Linked DNA regions of Homo sapiens. The protein of the gene in region 1 interacts with the protein of each later gene in a biochemical or structural test. Each region holds a gene or a part of one and is shown on either strand. Other genes may lie near its edges.

Region 1 (3,828 bases):
GGATAAGAATCTGTTTAAATACAAAAACAATGCTCAGTGCTTGCTTTAGCATATAATTTGTTGCCTCTCTGTGTCTTCAGAGAGTAACTACTTTATATGTTGGATTTCAAATTGATATTTTACTTGACTATGAATACTGGCTAAATACTGGCTATCAAATGTAGTATATCAAACGTAGTATATCAAACGTAGCAAACTAAAAGATAGCAGCTCTGCTGTCTTTGCCTCACTCCTATTTACGAAGGTGAGTTAGACAAGGAAAATGAAGAGGGTACAATGTCTTGCATCATGAAGCAGCTTTCTGTAACTTTTTCACAAACCAATCCTTCACTTTCTGCTTCCCATCTTATATCAAAAATGAACTATTCTAGGGAATGATTTTTTTTTTTTTTTAAGACAGTATCTTTTTCTGTCACCCAGGCTGGAGTGCAGTGGCGAGATCTCGGCTCACTGCAACCTCTCCGTCTCCTGGGTTCAATCAATTCTCCTGTGTCAGCCTCCAGAGTAGCTGGGATTACAGGTCTCCGCCACCACACCTGGCTAATATTTTTTTTTTGTATTTTTAGTGGAGCTGGGGTTTCACCATGTTGGCCAGGCTAGTCTCAAACTCCTGACATCAAGTGATCTGCCTGCCTTGGCCACCCAAAGTGCTGGGATTACAGGCTCACGCCACTGCGTCCGGCCAGGAATGACTATTGTTTAACTTAGCACAACGTCGTTACAGTTTTAATTTTTCTACTTCGATCTTTATTCTATTTTTCTTCCTCTTCTGTTCAGAATTTTAGTCATTTTGCCATCTTTGGTGCTTCCAGTAGTGGGAAGAAAAGTAGACAATATTTTAATTAGACAATTTTGTTTTTCACTAGTTTTCATAAATATATGAGTAAAAGGAGTAGAAATCACCGCAGAAACTCCCTAAGATAGGAATAGACAATTTACCAAGGCCCCATTCACGTAAACAGCTGTTACACATTAACCATCCTGTCCCCCCCTCCCTAGGCCACAGCATAACCCAGCCATGTGCCCAGCAGCTGGGCTGCTCCAGCCGCAGGGTGTCACCTGGGGGGCAGATATAGGGCATAGCTGGCATCTTCTCTTGTGTTCCCCGCAAGGAACCAGTGCATTATGTTGTTCTTATTTCCCTGTTTTCATCACGACAGCGGAGTTAACTTTATTCAAATACACTTTCTTTTCTGATCATACCCTTACCTTCTCTTCAACACCCTCACTCCCATCTCTGATCCAGCTTTTACCCACTGGAAACGTGTGAGTCGGAAAACGGCACTAGTCTCTCCTGGAATATATGAAAGTGGTGATAGTTGTATGAAGGGGAAGGAAAGCCATCACCACTTCGGTGAAAATTAGAGTTAACTCTAATTTTTCAGTGCCATTAACCTCTGAAGTTTCGAGAGTACCAGAAATTCTCAGAACCTGCATTCCCCCTGTTCACCTTTTACTACAAGCATTAGAAATCAGTAACACATTGTGGGTCACTGAAATTTATCAGATTTTGTGTTCAGTCACTAGTGTTTTGAAGATTTTGTTGTCTATACTTTTTTTCCAATGTGAATATGTAGTATTTCAGCACCCTATGCATAAAGTTAAGGGTCTGAAGCCAGGCTGGGAACACAGCTACCATCCCTAACATGGTTTTTCTGGGGACACGTATGCCCCAGCAACAGAAAACCCATTTGGGGTTTATTGGTTAAATGAGTTTGGGATAACTGGTGAATGTATGTTCGCCATAGATCATAGAATTTAGAGCTTGAAAAGTTCTCGCATATCATCTAATCTGTTTGTTCGCAGTTAAATTTGTTAGATGTTTTCACCACCATTTTCTCTTTACTGCTGTTACCTCTTAAGATTGAGGGACAATCCATGAAAACACACAGAGATCCTAGTGCATCAGAGCAATAGGGCTGTTGGCCAGGCTGGAGTGGATAATGAAGGAGAAATTACAAAAGCAGGCAAGAGCACAACCCTGGAAGAGCCGAGGAAACCCAAATCTGGAATTGTTGGGGTTTTCTCTTAGTGGATAGCATCTTCTCCAAGAACTCTACTTTTAGAAAAGAAAATGCTATGTATATCTATAAATGTCCAAAGGACTGTTGACTCCAAAGAATTGTTTTCTGCTCCGAAATTGAGTTGAAAACCACGTTGCTCTGAGTGGCATTGTTCCACTGATATCCACTGATTCTCTTCCTGCCCTTCCCATCTCCATTATTAAGGAGATTGGGACCATAATAGAGATGATATCTAAATTACATCAGTTAATTCCTTGATGGGTCCCCACGGTCTCGTTATCTCAAGCACAGTCCCAGATGACTGGGTCGAAGAATCTCCTTCAAACATTTTTGCAGGATGAGGTTCTGGTTCCAAGTGGGAGAGCCTTCCTGACTTTCAGATTTATAGGCATACGCCCTTGATGACTGATCCTCCTGCTGGCCAGGTCAGGATTGTCCTAGGCCTAAAATGTCCTTGCCACACAGTGCCGATTATATGTTCAGATTGTTTTCATATCACCAAAGAGCTCAGCTGGCCACGGGGGGAAGTGGAGTGGAGTGGATTCACAGGGCGCAGAAAACAGTGCCCCTCGGAGGCAGAGCCCCGGAGCCCGCTCCACCCTGACCTCCGATATCCGCCACGGGCCTTATTATCACTCTCCTGCCGCTTGCCCTTTCACCGTCCAGAACGTCTGCGTTTGTTGATTGTTGTTGCTGTGTTTACAGTCCTGTTGGTTTCCTGTACGTGAACATGGGCTGGAAAAAAAATTCTGATTTGTGTCTCAGCAGAGCATGAGTGAACCATATCATTGGTAAGAGCTGATTAGGCCAGGAGATTTCTTATAATATTAGCCTTGCTTATTCTCTGAGACCAGTTATTTTCCCTCCCTCCTTTTGAATCTATGAATTACATTTAAATAGTCCAAAGACTGAGTTTTGTAAACTACAAAATTAAGGACTAAAAGTTTTTACTTAATTTTGATTTTTATTCAGATTTTATTTGTAGACTCCCATATCGGAATAAGTTAACAACGGAGAAGCTGTACATTTTTTAGAAAGAGAGGGTTTTTTTTTAAGATCAGTTTGAGGTTCACAGCAAAACTGAGCAAAATTTTGCAGAGATTTCCCAGGTACCCCCTGCCCCACAGGTGCACAGACTCCTCCATTATCACCCAGCAGAATTTGGTATCTTTGTTGCAATTGATGAACTTATATGGACACATCATTGTCACCTAAAGTCTGTAGTTACATCCCGGTTCACTCGTAGTGTTGCAGATTCTGTGGATTTGGACAAATGTGTAATGATGTTATCCACCGCTATAGTATCATGCCGAGGAGTTGTGAAACTACTCTGCCCTACAAATCCTCTGTGGAGAAGCTGTACATTAAACAAGGAAAAACAAGTCAATGAAAGTATAAAAATTCAAAATACGCAGAGTTCGGGGAAAGAATTATAAAATACCTCAGTTGAAGAATATTTTGTTTCTGGGGTTTTACTAAAGTGGTCCCTAAGGAAGTAATTTTGATAGTCTATGACAATGTGGGATTTATTTTATAGTGCTTCTATGTGTTGACAACAAATCCATCAGAAATCTTTCTTTTTTCTTTCTTTGTTTTTAAGTCTAGGAGTTTAAAAATCTTTTTTCCTCCGCATAGTTTGACTGAGGTGTCTGTCACCATAGTACCTAGACAATCCCTCAGGCAGAGATATGAGTGATTAAATTTCTCCCTGGCTTGTGCCCTGTTTGATCCATGCTAGGCAGGATTTGGGGGAGTAAAATAAAGAAGCCTGAAGAATGAACAAGAATTATAGGAATTTTGTGCT
Region 2 (3,828 bases), on another chromosome or scaffold:
ACCACTGAGCAGTATCAGTGACCAGATAGATGTATGTGTGCATAAACACAAATTTTGTGAAGCTCTTGAAATGCACTAAATACTCCTGGGTAGAATACAATGAATCATAAAGGGGTCATCTAACTTAACCCTCTTCAAATATAAGAATTATCTATGGCTGGACAGTTGGTCTCTGCTTGAGTACTTCCAGTGACAAAGTACCGACATTCTAAGGTGTCTATTCAACACTTATGTGGTGTACAGGCCAGCAACACTGCCGTCAACTGGTAGCTTAGCTTTTAAGAAATGTAGACTCTCAGGCTTCAACCCAGACCTACTGAGTCAGAATCTAAATTTTAACAAGATTCCTAAGAATCTGGTATGACACATTAAAGTTTGAGAATTACTTCATTTAACAAACAAGTAACCATCAACACACGTGAAAGCACCTACTTTAGCAATCAATGCTCACACTATCCTCTCTACCCCAATTTCTGACTTAACAATTGGGTTCTGACTTAAGAGTCAGAAATGCCTGACTCTGAAATTATTTCATGGCATTTAAGAAAAGTCAGTATCTAGCCTTTTCTTTTTCCAAAAGAACTTCTCTGAAACCTCTCTTCCCCATAAACAAAGCAATTTCTCCCCTAAACTCCTAAAACACATGCTTGTATTTCTTAAGTATTGCACTAACCCAGAAACATTTATTGAATACCTATGTACTGGGGAATGGGCCAGACAACTCACACTTAACTTACTCTAGAGTTAATTGTCCAGGATATATTTTATTGCCCTAACTAAACTGTATATTACTTGAGAATAAGGTCTTGTGTCTCCTAAATTACTTAATCCAATGATTTGTTATGGAGAGTTCATATTAATAAAGTTCTTATAAAATATATTTTCCTATAACATCTGCCATCTAACCTACTTCTGCTTCCATAAATGCACATCATAAATGTCATTCCTCTTAGAGTCAAAACACTCTGCGTTCTTAACGCTTCTTCCTAAAGACTTCTGAAATTATTCCAAAATTGCTTCAACTTTTCTTAGGTTTGGCATTGACTCCCAAGCCAATCCCTCAATCCTGGAAGAATGCCCATTTCTGAACACTCTATTAAATTCCCTTTAATAGTACCCTATATTGAATTTCATATTCCAGTGGCAGTCTGTCCTACAACGAGAGCCTATTACAGTACTCAGAAAATAAAATATTGTTAGTAACATAGGTTACATTGGTTATAACTTAAAATATTCACAATTTCTTCTATGGTCTTTGACAATCACAGGAAGTTTTTAGGCAATTATAAATTAGAACTTAAGAAACAGATCAAGCTCATTTACATCTGTTTAGGAGTTTAGCAGTCGGCAAGTTTGCCTTATATTATTCAAAACAAAAAATGCTGCAACATACTTGAAGACAGAGTAAAGACCTTATGAAGGAGTACTAAAGACAGTGCTTGAAACACTAAAATAGTTCTGTCACACTGGAAATATCGTCTGAAAATTTACCCAGAAAAATAAATAAATAAAAGCAAATATCTATAAGACTTGAACATGGACTTCAATAACAAGAACAAGTAATAGAAACCCTTTAACCTGGGGGGCAGGACCCATATGACCTTAAAGCAGACCTCTCCCTATGTCTGGATCAGAGTTTCAAATCTAGGTTTCATCATTCACCAGTTTGAGGCTAAAGTAGGCAAACTACTTAATTTCTCTGCATCTCAATTTCCTCATATGTAAAGCATAATAACTACCTCTGAAACCGTTTTAGGAAATAACCTTAAGGTATGTGAAGTGTCCAGCAACATAGCTAGTAATGGTAAAGGATCAATACATAGCAATTCCTTTCCTCTCCTACCCCACCCACTGCTCCCCTGCCTCCTGAATTCTCTACCATCTCTTGGAGTCAATTAAAAAAAAACTGTACTTTAAAATATTACCTTGGAGTGTATCATCCCTTTTCATATATGTGTGGTAGGCATATATATCTTTTTTAAAAATATTTTTTTCCCTTACCATCTGCAGCAGTACAGCGAGAAGCCAGTTCCCATAGGACTAATCCCATGGCATACATATCTATCCTCAAAAATGCATCCCTTTGGAAGTTTATAGCACCCTCTAATACCTCTGGAGCCATGTACCTCCGGGTACCAACCTGAAAAAGATGTTAAAAGCAAAGAGTACTCATTCATTAACTTTATGAACTAACATATGATTTTGTAAGATGAATCAAAACCAAATGTGGTCTATTACCAGGGTAAGGTATACACACTATAGCGTATAAATAGAAAGATCCTTTCTGCGTATACTTAAAAAATATATCAACAGACATTATGCTGGTACAGACTTAGAAGTTTTTATGTTCCCCTTTCTGGATGTAATCACAAGAAACTGAACCAATTGTCAGCTGGGAGAAGGATGCTGCATACTTTTCAACTGTACCTTTGCATACTGTTTGAAATGTAGCTTTAAAAAAAAAACTTTTTTTGAGGTCTTTTCTCTGTATTAAAAAAACTAATAAAATGTTATAAAAAGAATTAGCTAAGTAAAGGACAGACTGATGTTAAAAAGTTCTATCTGTACAAAATCTATGTATTTGTTTATTCATAAATTCTTCTGTCTTGGAGTCCTTTATTTATAACTGTCCCCAACAATTTGGTATTTCTTAGTACTGTAACTATGGTTACTAAGCTAGTACAGCTAGCTTTGGTTGGTGCTTGACAACATTCATATATGAATGCTTAAAAATATTTGTGAGATAGCTGGGTACATCACAACATACTTGCGATGTATTCGAACTAGAGAGTAGTCTAGATATTGGTACGTCCATAACGCTCCATCCTTAGGTGGCTATAATCTCTACTCTAGACTAAAAGTTGGGCAATTTATGCAAATATACATGTAAAGATTTTTTTTAAGAATAAAGACAGATCACTAAGACTAAAGTTCAAGGAGAACACATTAAAGGGAAAAGTGGCTCTACTTTTAAAAAATTTACTACTCAGAATAATTATTTTAATTGTGCTATCAGTGAATGTTTCCCTAAAGCCTACTTTTCTCTTACAGGTAAATGTATGCCATCCAAGGTACCTACCTCTTTTATTGTAAGATTATGGTTTATTTACCATGTTGACATAAAATGTTCCCTCTTTTATATGTGTTCTTTGTACTATATAAAATGTGCAATAACATGCAAGTCCCTCCAAATATTTCTGAAATTTTCTGGTCCATGAAATCTAAAGTCAAGGAGTCATTACTGTAAGCCAATAATTTTTAACTAATCATAAAACCCAGTTGTGAAGGAGTTAAAAATATGACATGAATGAGTCAGAAATTTTTTTTCTCAAAAAATGAGGGAGGGCTTATGAGGTACCAAATTAAGAATATGTTCCCAGAATTTAGTCTTATGATAGTCTATCATTCAATTAGCTTAGAAGTTTGTCCTCAGGCTTCCTACACAATCTTGGTAGTATTCTCCACAAAATTGCCTCCATTCCCATACACATTTGCAGTCAACTTTTCTAGAGCTATATGGCTACTGACCATTACCCCAAACTACATTCTTAAATAGTTAGTCAATACTGCCAAAATTGGTGGTGCCATGACATTAAAAACGTGTCCTCAGGAACCAATAGGATATGCTGGGGAAAAGAAACCTAAGAATTAGTTGGCCAAATAATTTACATGATATGAAAGATGAAGAAATGATAATGTCGAAGGCCTGAACCATTTAGCTTTGTAGAAAATGTCACCTTTTAGGTTGAACTGGTTTCCCTGATTAAAAGGTGATCTTGGCTGGGCGTGGTGGCTCACGCCTATAATCCCAGCACTTTGGGAGGCCGA

What was found.
Region 2: the proteins of BMP6 (region 1) and ACVR2A form a complex in vitro, tested with the Homo sapiens proteins (one study listed by BioGRID).

What each region holds. Positions count from the first base shown.
Region 1 is NC_000006.12:7,732,522-7,736,349, forward strand, and holds part of BMP6 (bone morphogenetic protein 6 preproprotein), read left to right. Parts: intron 1-3,828. UniProt on the Homo sapiens protein: Growth factor of the TGF-beta superfamily that plays essential roles in many developmental processes including cartilage and bone formation.
Region 2 is NC_000002.12:147,921,285-147,925,112, reverse strand, and holds part of ACVR2A (activin receptor type-2A isoform 1 precursor), read right to left. Parts: intron 2,141-3,828; coding exon 2,002-2,140; intron 1-2,001. UniProt on the Homo sapiens protein: On ligand binding, forms a receptor complex consisting of two type II and two type I transmembrane serine/threonine kinases.